2 separate regions of the Homo sapiens genome follow, and region 1 is linked to region 2. The links come from fine-mapping of genetic effects on gene expression. Tissue or cell type: monocytes after R848. Region 2 holds a variant in brackets; the other region holds the start of a gene. All regions are shown on one strand. Distances are between the middles of the regions.

Region 1 (8,108 bases), 370 kb before region 2:
AATCCAAATAAACACACAAGGAAACCTTGATCTTAACATTACAGTTTACACAAAATTTAACTCAAAATGGATCATAGACTTAAATGTAATTCATAAAATTATAAAATTTTTAGAGAAATAGGATAAATATTTAAGATTTAGAAGTATGCAAAGAGTGAAAAGGAAAATTGATTCAATATTGCTTTAAAAATTGATGTAAATAAACCTTTTGATCTGTGTAATACCCTGTGAAGGGGATAAAAAGATAAGTTATGGATTGAAAGAAAACATTTCCCAACCACATATCCGACAAAGGTATAGTATATAAAGAACACTCAAAACTAAAAAAAAAACAAACAAAAATTAATTAAAACATAAGCAAAAGACATTAAGAAATATTTCACCAAACAAAATATATAACTGAGAAATAAGCACATAAAAAGATACTCAACATCATTATCCATTAGGAAAATGCAAATTAAAACCAAAATGAGATATTGCTATACACCTATTGAAATAACTAAAGAGTAGTGACAACACCAAATGCTGGTGAGGATGCGGAGAAACTAGGGCCCTCACACATTTCTGGTAAGAAAGTAAAATGGTATAGTCACTCTGGAAGAATATCGCAGTTTCTTAAAATACTAAACGTGCAAATACATCTAGGATTAAAATACTAAACAAGCATTTATTAAAATACTAAACATACCATACAATCCAGGAATTAAACTTCTGTCTGTGCATTTATTCTAGAAAAATACTTCTATTCACACAAAACCTGTGCACAAATGTTTATAGCAACTTTATAACAGAGCTGGAAATAACTCAGATGTCCTTCAAAGGTGAATGGTTAAACAATCTGTAGTTTGAGTCCCAGATACTTCCTAGTTATGTGAAAGCACAGTTATTTTATTCCTTTTCCTACATTTTCTCTCTCGTAGAATAAGAATAATTGCGTCAATCTATTAAAGTTTTTGAGGGAATTAAATGAGTCAAAGTATGTAGAGCACTTAACATGGTGCTGGCACAAAGTACTCAGTAAAAATTAGCACCAATAGGGAGTGTAAATTAGTTCAACCATTGTAGAAGACAGTGCGGAGATTCTTCAAGGATCTAGAACCATAAATACAATTTGACCCAGCAATCCCATTACTGGGTATATACCCTATAAGTCATTCTACTATAAAGACACATGCACAGGTATGTTTATTACAGCACTGTTCACAATAGCAAAGACTTGGAACCAACCTAAATGCCCATCAATGATAGACTGGATAAAGAAAATGTAGCACATACACACCATGGAATACTATGCAGCCATAAAAAAGGATGAGTTCATGTCCTTTGCAGGGACATGGATGAAGCTGGAAGCCATCATTTTTAGCAAACTAACACAGGAACAGAAAACCAAACACCACATGTTCTCATAAGTGGGAGTTGAACAATGAGAACACATGGACACAGGGAAGAAACATCACACACTGGGGCCTGTCAGGGGTTGGGGGGCTAGGGGAAGGGATAGCATTAGGAGAAATGCCAAATGTAGGTGACGGGTTGATGGGTGCAGCAAACCACCATGGCACGTGTATACCTATGTAACCTGCATGTTCTGCATGTGTATCCCAGAACTTTAAAGTATAATAAAAAATAAAAATTACCACTAATAACACTTGCACAGCTTGTAGAAGATAGTCTTAAGATTATGAAATCCATCCTGGTTGTGTGGTACTGGTGTCGGGGATGGGAGCAAAAGCCTCTGTCTACCATTGCTTCTTTAATTGACTAGTTTGGGCAGCAAGAATACAAAAGCTAGACATGACACACTGTGTAAAAATCAGGAATGAAAAGCATGATGTGGTCAATAAGAAATGCAAATACATACAAAAATGCTAAATTGCCTTAGTGTAGAAAGATTGCCTGCTGGAAATAGGAACTATAAGTAAAACTCTGTGAGTGTGATTTTTAAAATATGATTTATTACAAAATTCCAGCAGCCAAACAAAAGAAAGATAGTCCCTCTAATAAAAACTGAACATAGCATTTCTTATCTATTATTTGTTTATTAGGGTTCTAATTAGCCAGACAGTGTCACTTAATTTCAACACATTTTATAAATAATTTGCCATATGTCTGTTAGTATTTACGATTTCCAGGCAGTTTGGAAAATGAACATATTTGAGGACTCTCTATTCATTGGTTAGCATGAAAACCCAAGGGATGCTACAGACACATTTGTTCCTAAATTGCATGTGCCTCTCTCTTTACCAGGAAAGTGATAATGGGAAAGAGCTGGTCTTAGGAGAAAGACCAGTGATGGAAAATATACTAGTCTTAGGAGAAAGACAATGTGGTTTGAGGTCCCATGTTCACCACCAAATTCCTGTTTGGCTTTGAGCAATTGTATTCACTTCTCTGAGCTTCAGCATTCTCCTCCATGGCACAAGGGGGCTTCACTAAATAACCTCCAGTTACCCACTAGTGCAATATTCTGCAATTTAACCGTATCTGTGATTCTAGACCACACTCGTCCCTAGAAGCCAGAGCACTCTGAGTGAAGGGAAGTAAAGGAACAGGGACTTAAGCATTCTTCTCTTTAGCAGATGGAGAATTTTGAAATGCCAACTCGCTCTTTTAAAAATTCTAGACTGTCTAAAGCATAGGCAAATTTCATGTTCTTAAAAATTCCTAGCTTGTGTCTTACACACACAGCGATGCAGATTTTAGATGGTGTGGGTGTTTCTTCTCTTGTAAAATGTTTCCTATGTCCATGTTTCTTCTTGGTATTCTGATAAGATCTGTAGGTACATACAAAGTTCACAATTACTCTACCAACCAACCAAAATCTTATGTAAAGATTTTCATGAAGTTAGTATGTTCACTTCTTTCCAACACCTTTTATTCCTAAGTTTGGTAATATTTCTTTTTTTTACTACCCTTAAAATCAACTTACTGCTCATTCTACCTTCTCTTTTATTTATGGACCCATCAATAATTATCCATCAATACAGCAACTTGCTCATGACATTTATGCCAATTAGTTGAGTTGTAGGTAACTTAATAAAAGGATTATACATGAAAATCTCATTTTAGGGTATGAATCGAAGCTATCAATAAGCCCATTACTAATTCTGATTTTCTGTAAGTTTGCACCATTCACATAATCTGCCACTATAATATATTGGTCCCACTTTCCTTATTTTGTATAATCAAACAGTAATCAATAAAAACTATGACTACTGCAAAATGAGACTTCTGAAGCTTTGAGGGCAAATTCATCATCAGCATGCATATAAAAGTCACTGTAGAGAGTCTTTTCTTTCTTAAGTGCCCTTGAAACCCAGCAGCTGAATCATATTTCAGGCCCCCCAAAGAGAACTGCAAGGTTATAATTGTCTCACACTTAATTACATGCATTACCAAAGGTAGATGGACAAAGTCATTTTGTACCATGCGTAGAGAATAAAAATCACCATGAATTTTGATATTGCTGGCTCATTGATTCACAGGAAGTAGAAATTTATGCAAGAACCATGTCTAACAATGTAAATGTTCAGCCAAGTCGAAGAACACTGCCTTCACTGTTCTGGGACTCGGCCTCACATTCACAGACTTGCTATTCTTCTCTTTCACTCTTGGGCCTAGCGAGGCAGCTTATTTTTCCTTTTTCTTTCATTGGTCACAGTTATTTCTTTTCAGTGTGTCATCTTCTCTAAGTTTCTGAGGGAGTGTTAGCTTGAGGCCTTGCCTTGACATAATCAGATATAATCAGAAAAATGAAAAATTCCATAGGAAAGAGAACTATTTTAGCCAAGGTGTGCGAGAGAAATACCGCCACTTTCAAGCACTGTTTTCTTCTACTGGAGTCTGCTCAATAGGGACGTCAGCTTTGCTGGGGTAAGTAAAAGCATCCTGGCCTTAACCTATATAATGGGGGAGTAATTGCCTCTTAGAATCATCAAGTCTAAGTTCTGAATTAGGCCCAGGATATGACTACTTTTCTTTACACTGCATTTGAAATTTCATTTGGCTTTCTGGGTGCGAGATCCACATTTCTTTTCTAACAGAATGTTTTATTTTTCGTCAATTGATTTCATTATGATAAGCTGATGGCAAATGCTACTTCCTCACTCAACAGGGCTTGCAGTCTGAATGTGCCTGAATACATTTTATGATAAATAATATATCCTGCTATCCTGCATTCATCCAGTGCAGCCTGAGGAAGCAGATGGAGTTACAGCCTTCTTCTCAAAGCAGAAAGAAACTATAGCTTTGAGGAAGAGAATGAGATCATTACATGGCTTCCCAATTTCATCTTGATAAACTCTGAAGCTGCCATATTGCAGTAGTTTTCAACTATAGGTGGGAAGCTTGACTTTCCTTTGAGTTCAAAGGAGAAAACTGTTGCTTAAAGAAAAATGTGTTTTTTCCCTAAGTATGAGTTACTCCTTCCAGAAAAAAAATAAAAAAGCCCCATGCATGCAGGTCTGTGATGAATACATTTAGGACAGTCCTGTGGCCTGCTATTAAGGCTGGAGTGACACTATCCCTAACCCTAAGGTGAAAAGTAATGTTAAAAATAAAAATTATACTGAGCTGCTAGTTATTTTGCCTACAGGAGTGCATGCCTGTGTCTGGTGGAACTTGGTTTTTCTCTGAATTTGCCAGGCAATTTTCTCTGAATTTGCCAGGTAGGCAGAGGAGAATTTGAAAACTGTAGAGAGGAGCTTGACCTCCCAAAGCCAATCTGGCACTCTGCTACTTCCTTCTTCCACAGTTTCTTCTCTGTTTCCAGATCTTGCAAATGTACAGTCAAGACTGCTTGGAGTATTATTCCATTAACAGACATACAGTTACATTAAGCCATTAATCAGGCAGATCACAGATGTTGTTTTCTGTCTAGATGTTACTATAATTACTCTTAATAACACCCACTGAGTTTGTCATTTCATCCATTGATGACTTTTTAAAAAATTCTTGGAAAATTCATTTCTTACAGCCTAATTATATGGATTTAAGGGTTCAGGATCTCTCCTCAGGTTTTCATCATGTATTTTTTAAAGAGTATAGCAGTATAACATCACATATGGGTGGATTAATAGGCTCTTGAGAAACTGAAGGTTGAAACCCACATGCTGACTTTTTACAGTTAAATCATACTCCTCTCGTGCTAAACGATGAGCCTTATCTTTTGAAGCATGTGATACTGATAAGTCCAGTGAAGGAGGCTGCCTTTCAAAGGAACGGAGCTCTGAGGAATGGAATGGAACTTAGTCTAGCTGCCTAGTTTACAGATGATAAAACTAGGACCTAGAGAAATGAAGTCTGAATTACTGAGAGAAAAGGACACCAGAGTCCAAGGCTCAGAGCTCTCAATCCAGTGTTGCTTCTTCTTGTTTATTTTGTTTTGTTTTGAGATGGAGTCTTGCTCTGTCACCCAGGCTGGCGTGCAGTGGCGCAATCTCAGCTCAATGCAACCTCTGCCTCCTGGATTCAAGCAATTCTCCCATCTCAGCCTCCCAAGTAGCTAGGATTACAGGCATGCACCACCATGCCTGGCTAATTTTTGTTTTGTTTTTTGTTTTTTGTTTTTTAGTAGAGACGGAGTTTCACCATGTTGGCCAGGCTGGTCTCGAACTCCTGACCTCAGGTGATCCGCCCACAGCCTCCCAAAGTGCTGGGATTACAAGCGTAAGCACCGCACCTGGCCCAGTGTTGCTTCTACTACCACTTTCATTCTTCAAACAGCTTCTGCCATGTCAGAAGGGAATGAAAATTTCTTTTGTGACTCAAAAGTAAACTAAAACTCGTTGGATTCCTGAGACTGATTCTACCCATTTACCCACTCTCCTTAAAGTAAAACTTAGCCAGGCATTCTTAAATTTTGCTTTGAACCTAGGGAGTTCTAGCTTTTCTGCTGATTAAATGTCACTGATTTCTCATTTTCTGGTGACATTGTTTTACAATTCTTTTAACTACAAAGTTTAAGTTTCTGGAGCCTTTTCTTCTTTTCATTTTTTATAAAATACCCTTTTATTAAGAGATGAAGTTGGGTAGTCAGAATAGGAGTGGGTATTGTTTAGTAGAAAAAAAACGGGCTTTGGAATAAAACTTGCATATGAATTACAGTTCTGCTTCCTATAATTGTGTAACCTTGGCAAGTTACTGCGCCTGTCAAATGCTCACATTAAAAGAGTGTGTGTGTGTGTGTGTGTGTGTAATTGCCAGTACAATTCAATAATTGGCCCACAGAAGGCACTTAATAATTGCTAGTTACTACTAAGAGAACCAGATGAGAAAGAATATTAATGGATATGGCATTTTTTGTTTATTAAGTACTGTCTTAAACGTCTGGAGAAAAGAAGGAGAATCTCATTTTCTGCTTTCGTTATTAGTGATCACTGGCTGCTGTTGCCAATGCAGGGAGCCTTGCAGATAGTTAGCAGCCTGAAAACAACTTGTATTATTTGAGAGGAGGTACTTTTGTCTCTTAGATAAAGTTTTTGCAGGTCGCTCTGGTATGGTGCAGTATCAATCTGAACTCATTAAGTTGAAGAAGTGACACAGGAACACAAGAATACATTGTTTCTTTGCCTCATCTGCTTAATTAAAAATTCCAGATCCCTCCACTCACAAGCAAGATTGATGGTGAAATCTTCACACACATGCTACCGTATGTTCTCTACCTCCTCCTCCCCAAGTACAACCTAGAGCAGTGGTTCCCAAATATGCTTCCTGGGCCGGCTGTATCAGAATTACTCGGGAACTATTAGAAGGGCAAAACCTCAGGCCCTGCCGCAGACATGCTGAGTCAGAAACTCGGGATCACTCAGAAATCTGTTTTAAATAGGCCTTCAGGTGATTCTGATGGAGTTCCAGAACCATGACCTGGAGAACATGCCCAGTTACTATATGTACTGCAGTGTTTCTCAAAGTGAAGAACAGGTACCATGATAGAACCAAAAATGATCTTAGGTAGGACAAAGATGACTTTAGGTGATACTCACGTATTATATCAAATAGCTAGATCACATAGTAAAAGTTTTCCCTCTCAACTCTCTTTCCATCATTAAGTCTCATTTTGGTATGACTAGACCTTTAATACCTCTCTACCCATTGCTAATCTCCCATTTCAACAAAGAGAGCTGGATGCAATTTTGATGTCTTTAGGTAGCAGCAGGGTCCAGCTAAAACTCAGCAATAGTTTTCTTCTCTTTATGGCATGCTATTTAAATGGTGATAAACTTTTCCTTTATAAATGTTTACATTAATTAATCAAAAAAGTTAAAATACAGTTGGCACGTGGATTAGCAAAATTATGTCAGTGATATGGCAGTGAATGTATTTAGAGAAATGCTGGTATGCTAGAAAGAACCTAGTTACATCAGTGCTTTAATTTCATTTGTGCCATTTATTAGCTGTGCTATTTTCTTAGCTGTGCTACTTTTGTAAGCCTCAATTTTCTCATCTATCAAATGGGAGTGATACCAACATCATAGAAATGGTATAAGAACTTATGAATGGAATATGCCTCCTGTAACCCTCAGAACATAGTAGGAACTTGCTACATCCTTATTCTCTCAAATCTCACTTTGAAGTCAGGTTTCTGTGTGGCCTTCTCAATAGCATTTCTGTTGGGGCTTCAGATTCTTCATTTGTAATGTGACAGTAAAGACTTGAAGATCTGAAAGGTTCCTTCCAGCTCTTAACTAATATGTATTTACACATGTGTATTGTATGTGTGTATGTTTACATATAGTGTAAATTCTGCATATAAGTATGACTTAGGCATAAATAGTTATTTTCCCCAGGCATAAACCTGGAGTGTGCAGGGATAATATTGAAAATAGATGGCTGTGTTGGAAAAATAAAAAATCAAATTGTGAGAGATGTGGGCGCTGATATACATATCAGAGCTCAAAGGTAATTTCATTGTATTTTACCATCATCTGTCAAACTTAAAGCAATACCGACACTAGAAAATAGATTTTTGCAGAGGTTTCTGAGGACAATGGTTTCCATGAGCTGGTGTAAATATATTCAGAGAGACTTGTTCCTACTTAATAACCCGCGTTTTTCCTTCTGAATTGCTGATGCATTCATTTATAGCATTTGAAAGGCAGTTTGTCCTT
Region 2 (8,108 bases):
AGCTGATAAATCATGACCTTCCTTTGTTATCAGAGGATGGCAAATCAATACTTCCATTATCATTATTATTACTCCCAAGGCACCTCTCTAGCAGCATGTGAGCTATTCTCTCCCAAGCACAGAGCCGAAAGGATGGCTAATCTGCTTCTGAGACCCCATCAATCACAACAGGAAGAGAAAGGATGAATTGGGAAGAAGAAACATAATAGTACGGAGGGGGAAAACAGCATTTGAAAAAGCCTGGAATAGTTGCTCTAAGTGTCGTCCTAGGACCTCCTTGATGACATTCAGTGAGTGATGGTTAAAATGACAGATACTTTGGAAATGCCTAGTCTGTGGGTCAGGGGCATGACCTGCCTTAATTGACAACTTCTTCAAGCGGTTTTATGCACCTAAAGTTTGCACATTAAAAACCTAGAAATCTACTATTCACCGGTGGAAATATCACTTGTAACCATCTTGAAGTTTTGGGGTCCTGCTGTTCATCTCTCAGAAATAAGTTTTGCGGAATACTTGCATGCATACTTGTAGGAGTGGGCCAGCATCTTTCATGTCAATGTCAGCTATATTTCAGTTCCAGGGGAATGCAGATGTCCCTTGATTGACCCTATCAGTACTAAAACTTTAGTGTGCATAAAAGTCAGCCAAAGGGTTGGTAAAACAGAAATTGCTGGGCCCTACCCCTAGAGTTTTCTATTCAGGAGGTCTTGAGTGGGGCCTGAAAATTTACATTTCTAAAAAGTTCACAGGTTGGTTAGCTAATCCAAAAGTCATTCCCAGGCCAAGCGTGGTGGCTCATGCCTGTAATCCCAACACTTTGGGAGGCCAAGGTGGGCGAATCACCTGCAGTCAGGAGTTTAAGACCAGCTTGGCCAACATGGTGAAATCCCGTCTCTACTAAAAATATAAAAATTACCCAGGCATGGTAGCAGGCGCCTGTAATCCCAGCTACTTGGGAGGCTGAGGCAAGAGAATTGCTTGAACCCAGGAGGCGGAGGTTGCAGTGAGCCAAGATCATGCCACTGCACTCCAGCCTGGGTGACAGAGTGACTCAAAAAAAAAAAAAAAAAAGTCACAGGTGATACTGATGCTGCTGCTCCAAGAAACACATTTAAAAACCACTGGCACACATGGATGGATTTTTGGAGAGAGTTCTTTTTTTATTTAGGCAGAAAAGCATGATTAAGGGAGAGGGGAAAAAAATCACTTGCAATCTTAACACCCACTACCCACTGGATATCCATACACTTACACGGATACACACACACTTCTCCTCGTGCAAAAAAAAAAAGAATCACACTACATATTACCCTGTGCCTATCTTCTTCATGGGACAACAAATCAGGGCTCTCTCTCCACTCCTCCATGACCCACCTCTATGGCATACTGTCTAATAAATGCACAGCATGAGTACTGTCTGGACTCATCACAATTGGGTGTTATATTGTCTTCAATAACTTTATTGTTGTAACCAAACATGTTCTGTGTTAAGTCAAACAATAGAGAAAAATACAACCAAAAAGAAAAACACATCTCAAATCCCACCACGTCAGAGATAACCATTGTTAGCAAATTGATGTACATCTTTCAACACACGTATTCCTACATACATTTATTATTTTACATAAACTGAATCATAGACACCAAGTTATTTTGCAACATGCTTTTTCCACTTACATAAACCAAGTTTTGGTAAAGCAAATACAACCTCAAAAATCTTTGAGAAATGTACTATCTAATGGAATCTTAACACAAATTCTCTATGAAATGAAGCATTCTTTTATACAGTGAATTTCTGCCTACTCCTCACAGATACACTAGGTTAATTTTTTAATGTGTGTGTGTATCTGTGAATTCCATATTTCATTTATTAGGTTTGCTTTAGGAAGAGTGCCCCTGAAATAAAAATGAGCCTTTTGTACTAAATCGGAGTTCTGAGCCAAAGTCAGTGTCCACAGCACAGAGGAGCTGAAACCCAGAGCATTTGGAGCTTCTAGTATATATTCTGGATTTTCTCCATCAGTCTAGGACTGAAGACACCGATCTCTGGTGTCGGTTGAGATTTCACCAAGGTTCTGGTTCTGGAATGAGTCACTGGCTAAGGGTCTGATAAGCAAAGGGCGGAAGTGGGCAGAGTGTGAGAAGGGTGGGGGAGGTCCTTGATCTGATCAGTACAACCCAGAGAACACACCCATGTCCCACACGCTTGCGAGGGGGCCTTCATAATAACCAAGCACCCCTTTCCATCTGTAGAACATGGTTACGTGTTTTTCAATTTGCCATCCTGTTGTTAATTTGTCCCCGTTTTCCAGATGAGGCTTGGTGAGATTCACTGAGATCATGCATACAAAGAAAGCCCTGAGCACAGTGCTTGGCACATAGTGGGCACTCAGTAAACCTCGGTGTCACTGAGAAGACAGAATGAGAATGAGCATGCTGTGGAGTCTTTCACCTGCCTCTCCTCTGGGACAGGTTACTCTTTCATTCTGTAGACTGTAATGACATGGAAATTCCAAGATACCAAGAGACAATGATGAATCAAAGATGAGTTCCCAAAAGACAAATCACATCCCTTATTCCCCATCAAATCTAAAGCCTAATAAAGTCCATATAGCACTCATGAGGCCTCTAACCTTCTGCCTAAAAGTGATCATCATCACAGCAAACCTGAGCCTCAGAAAGGACCTAGCTTACTTGGTGACAGAGGAGGGCAACAGAAGGACTTGGCCCATGGCACCCAGCTGACCATGTCAGCAAATAGAGAGGCCTTCAAAGCCTTTGCATTCCTGTTCCCTGGAGAAACTGAGGATTGCAGTAAAGTGTAATTACAACCTCTTTTTGCCTTGTTTGAAATACAAAGGGACAATGTAGCCCTAATATATTTATAGAAGGAAGTAGAGATCAAATAAAGGAAGAGGGGGACCAAAAGAAGGGCATATCCATGTTTCTCATCTTCTTTCACTGCAGATCTTAAAAAGGAACCAGAAGCCTCAGCAGTCCCTGCTAAAGAATCATTGTCACATTCTATTAGTTCCCTCTGATCCCGTGAAGAGGGGGGAAAAATCATTGCATGGCAATGCCATGTGTCTCAAGCTTCATTAAAGTGATTTCTCCCAAGAGTCTCGTATAACAGCATGTAAAGCACTTACAACAGTACCTGAATCATCGTAAGTAATCAATAAATGTAAACGAGTAGCAGCAGCAGCAAGAGAGACTTGCTGAGATCATTCATTTAGCTACTTGGAACCCTGCTTAGCATAGAATTCAAGTCTTTTCACAATCAAATGAGTGTTTCTCACAGGAACTCACACTCCTTATACCTTCAGAGCCTGAGACTCTGCCTTCTGTCTCCAGTCTTCCAAGCTCTTCAGCAGACTGAAAAAGTTCTTCAGGATCTACTCTCTCCAGGTCCTCAAGCCCACGATGACAGAGATATCCCAGCTGAAGAACTGAATTTCAGAGGTCTGACACTGACACAACCCATGGAATTCAGTTCTCAAAGCTGAGGATACACATCGGCTTTTCAGAGATGGTGCAAAGACCCCTCCTTGCAGTCCAGGCCTGTCCCAGCCCTGTAAAATACAAGAGTGAAAAGCCTGGTAAATCCAATGCAGCTGCTTCCTAGTACCAGGTCTAGTCCTGGCACTCATGAGTTATAAACATCTGGAGGAGACCAGGCCAGCAGTCTGGAAGGCTGATGTGGGTGGATCTCTTGAGCCCAGGAGTTCAGGACTAGCCTGGGCAACATGGAGAATTTGTCTCTACTAAAAATAAAAAATGAGCCATGCATGATGGCCTGTGGTGGGAGGATCGCTTGAGCCTGGGAATTGGAGGTTGCAGTGAGCTATGATTGCACCACTGCACTCCAGTCTGGGCCACAGAGAGAGACCCTGTCAAAACAAAAACTAATCTGTAGGGGATGTGTATGGTAGACACACACATCATTAAGCATCATTAAACATGGTAGCTGGCCTTTCCTGCCTCATGACCCTTCCATATGCCATCCCTCTGGCCTGGAAAACTCGTTCCTCTCTTTAACATCAACTTATCCTGATGTTCTTGCTTTCAATGTCACTTCCTCAGAGAGGCCATCTATGGCAGAGATTGCTGATTGTTTGCCCAATATATATTCTCTCCTCCTTCTATACTAATAGAACCCTTAAGTGGTATCTGAACACATGGACATCTGACTTTGTTTCCTCACCTGGTGTGACAAAGTGCTGGATATGAGCAGGAGTGGAGAGTTTTTTACTGTTTCCCTCCCTCTTCTCAGGCTTGGACTGTAGACATGGT[A/G]GAGAGCCACTGTGGACCATGCAAATGAGTGCAGCCCCCCAGGGAACAGCAGAGCAGCATGCCAGAAGAGCCCCAAAAGTGTGAGGCTTCCTTATACACCCTAGACTGCTTACACCTGCACTGATAGATCAGCAAGAATGGAACATTTACCTTATTTAAGCCACTGTTACTTGGGGATCTCTGTAAGAGCACTTGAATGTTTACCTACCACTCCCTCACCATCAGCCTCCAGCTAGTCTCTTTCATAATATGGGATTCTTTCCTTCACCGTAATTTGTAATTGTTAGATAATTTTGTATAATTATTTGATTAAAATTATCTCTCCAACAAGACTGTTTTCCATAAGCATAGAGACCATGCTAGTGTTTTTTAAATATGTATATAGGCGAGATGTGGTGACTCACACCTGTAATCTCGGAACTTTGGGAGGCTGAGGCAGGCAGATCACCTGAGGTCAGGAGTTCAAGTTTCACTTGGCTAACATGGTGAAACCCCGTCTCTAACAAAAATACAAAAATTCGCCAGGCATGGTGGCGCACACCTGTAGTCCCAGCTACTTGGGAGGCTGAGGCAGAAGAATCACTTGAACCCAGGAGGCAGAGGTTGCAGTGAGCTAAGATTGCACAACTGCACTCCAGGCTGGGTGACAAAGCGAGACTCTGTCTCTAAAAAATAATAATAAAATAAAATAAGTATATAATAGCCTTATTGAGCTATAGCTATATAGCTCACACACCAGAAAATTTACCTATTTAAAGTAAAAAATGCATTGGTTTTTAGTATTTTGCAGAGTTGTACAACCATCATAATCAATTCCAGAACATTTTCATCATCCCCAAAATAGATCCCATAACCATTAACAGTCAATCTCCATTCCCCTCCCTCACCCCTGGGGAATCACTGATCTACGTTCTGTCTATATATATGCTGGACATCTTATATAAATGAAATCATATAATCAGCGGCCTTTTGTGACTGGCTTCTTTCACTTAGCTTTCAGGATATATCCATGTTTTAATGCGTATCAGTACATCCTTCCTATGGATGAATAATATTCCATCGTTAGGATCTACCACATTTCATTTATCCATTCATCAGCTGATGGGCATTTGGGTTGTTGCTACCTTTTGCCTATTTGATGCTTCTATGAATGAATACCCATGTACAAGTTTTGTATGGACATATGTTTGCATTTCTCATGGATGTGTGAACCCAAAAGTATCTGAGACAGACCTGAATCCATTTAGGAAGTTTATTTTGCCAAGGTTAAGAACATGCCTGTCACACAGCCTCAGAAGGTCCTGACAACATTGTGCCCAAGGTGGTCGGGGCACAGCTTGGTTTTATACATTATAGGGAAACATGAGACATCAATCAGTATATGTAAGATGTACATTGGTTCAGTCTGGAGAGCTGGGACAACTAGAAGCAGGGGTGGGGGCTTCCAGATCATAGGTAGATACAAGACAAACTGTTGCATTTTTTTGTCTCTGGTTAGCCTTTTACTGAATACACAATTTACATGTGAGAGGAGGGTAGAGGAATAGTCACTTATTCCTTAGTCTGGCTTAGTGAAATAATAGGGCAGAAGAAGCAATCAGATATGCATTGGTCTCACATGAGCAAAAGAATGACTGAATTCTGTCTGTCCTTTGTCCACAAGGAATTTCCTAGTGGGCAAATTGTGAGGGAGGTATGTAGCTTTTTTATCTTTGTAGCTAGCTTACGTAGGAATAAAATGGGAGGCAGGTTTGCCTCACACAGTTCCCAGTTTGACTTCCCTTTGGCTTAGTGATTTTGGGAGTTCTGAGATCTATTTTCCTTTCACAGACGTATACCTAAGTGTGGAATTTCTGTGTCATATGTTAACTCTATGGCTATCAGTTGATGAATGGCCAGACTGTTTTCCAAAGCGGCCACACTATTTTACAATTCCACCAGCAGTGTATGAGGGTTCCAGTTTCTCCACATCTTGCCAATACTTGTTAATGTCTATCTTTTGAGTATAGTTATCCTAGTAGGTGTGAAGTGGTATCTCACTACGGTTTTGATTTGCATTTCCCTGATGGCTAATGATGTTGAGTATCTCTTCATGTGCTTACTGGCCATTTATATAGCTTCTTTGGAGAAATGTCTATTCAGATTTTTTTGTCAATTTTGTAATTGAGTTGTTTGTATTTTTATTATTGAGTTGTAAGGGTTCTGTATATATTCTAGATACAAGTCCCACATGTATAATTTGCAAATATTTTCTCCCATTCTTTGGGTGGCTTTTTAACTTTCTTAATGGGGTGTGTGCATGTGTTTTGTGTAACATTATTTCCAGCTTCTAGCATGATGTCTTGATCATAGTAGGCACTCCAGTGATGGATGGATGGAAGGATGGAAGGAAGGAAGAAAGGGAGGGAGGGAGGCGGGGAGGGGAGGAAGGGAGGGAGGCTAGGTCTCAGTTATGCAGGCTTCCATCACAACTGTCCCAGCACTGACTGACAGCTAGGTTAAACATTAAAAGTTGATTGAGCCAGTGCCCTTATACAAAGTCTGGAATGCAACAAAAGCCCACCAAGAGTTTTGCCTGGACACTAAAGCATGACAAAATAACGAAGGAATTCTTAACAGGACCCATTTAGGATTAAACAAGTTTTAATGGGGGTCTGAAGAAACTCCCCAGGCCTCCACAAACAGGTTTATTGGGGGCCTAAAGGAACTCCCCAAACCTCCATGATTTAGCAGGGGACAAGATAAGTAATCACCCCAGCACCTGGACCCATTTAGATTAAGTAAATTTACTGAGGCTCTAGAGGAAGGTCTTCAGGACTCAGACCTTAGTTACAGATTAAAAGAAATTAATCACTAATGTCTTTAGATGAACGCACACTTACATGTAGACATATAGCTTAGAAAACTTTGTAATTTTGAGTTGGTCTAGTGATAATTTCTGGGCCTTCTCCCTGTAACTGGTTACAGAAATAAAAACTCTCTTCCTTCCCAGTTCATCTGCATCTCGTTATTGGGCTGTGAGAAACAGCAGCCTGACCCTCAGTTTGGTCCAGGAACAGGAGGGAGGGAGAAAAGGAAGGGAGGGAGGGAGAGAGGGAAGGGAGGGAGGGAGAGAAGGGAAGGGAGGGAGGGAACTTACTTTTACAAACCACACAGTTTAATTTCCTTATTTTAAAGATGGGGAAACTGAAAAGTTAAAAACATTAAGATGACAACATGATGAGATAATAAAAACAAGGTGATAGGCTGGGCACGGTGGCTCATGTCTGTACTCCCAGCACTTTGGGTGGCAGAGGTGAGGGGATCATAAGGTCAGGAGTTTGAGACCAGCCTGGCCAACATGGTGAAACCCCATCTCTACTAAAAATACAAAAATTAGCTGAGCATGATGGCACGCACTTGTAGTCCCAGCTACTCAGGAGGCTGAGGCAGGAGGAATGCTTGAACCTGGGAGGTGGAGGTTGTAGTGAGCTGAGATCGTGCCACTGCACTCCAGCCTGGGTAACAAAGTGAGACTGTCTCAAAAAAAAAAAAAAAAAAAAAGGTGATAGAAGTTAAAACTGGGTTTTAGCCCTAGCTTGTCTCCTACCAGCTATGGGAACTAGGCAGGTCATATAACCTCTCTACACATCAGAGACCTCCTCAGAAATGGTCCTCTCTCACCAATCAGGTATTGGAAGGAGCAAAGTAAACTAATCTATGAGAAACCACTGTTTGAACATGAGTTATAATTGAGGCCGAAGGTCAAATAGCTAAATCAGCCTGGTCAGAAAATGATGGCAGGTGGCCCAATTTCTGGTCCAGGGTGAAGCATA

Direction of the effects. Alleles are on the strand shown, and positions count from the first base shown. SD is a standard deviation of normalised expression in the study named.
For the expression in monocytes after R848 of the gene that starts at base 3,603 in region 1, allele G in region 2 goes with a lower level than allele A (moderate effect, 0.52 SD a copy in Quach 2016).

Evidence for each region. PIP is the estimated chance that this variant, and not a neighbour inherited with it, causes the effect.
Region 1: ATP10B starts here. The variant in region 2 is fine-mapped to the expression of ATP10B in monocytes after R848 (Quach 2016, PIP 0.95).

The regions. Positions count from the first base shown.
Region 1 is chr5:160,847,706-160,855,813 of GRCh38, reverse strand. It overlaps ATP10B (ATPase phospholipid transporting 10B (putative)), which reads left to right and starts at 3,603. Exons shown (of 26, transcript NM_025153.3): 1 at 3,603-3,873.
Region 2 is chr5:160,480,763-160,488,870 of GRCh38, reverse strand. It overlaps MIR3142HG (MIR3142 host gene), which reads right to left. Exons shown (of 2, transcript NR_132748.1): 2 at 1,445-3,572. MIR146A (microRNA 146a) reads right to left here and starts at 3,519; the gene lies at 3,421-3,519. The variant A/G (reference allele first, on the strand shown) is at 4,294.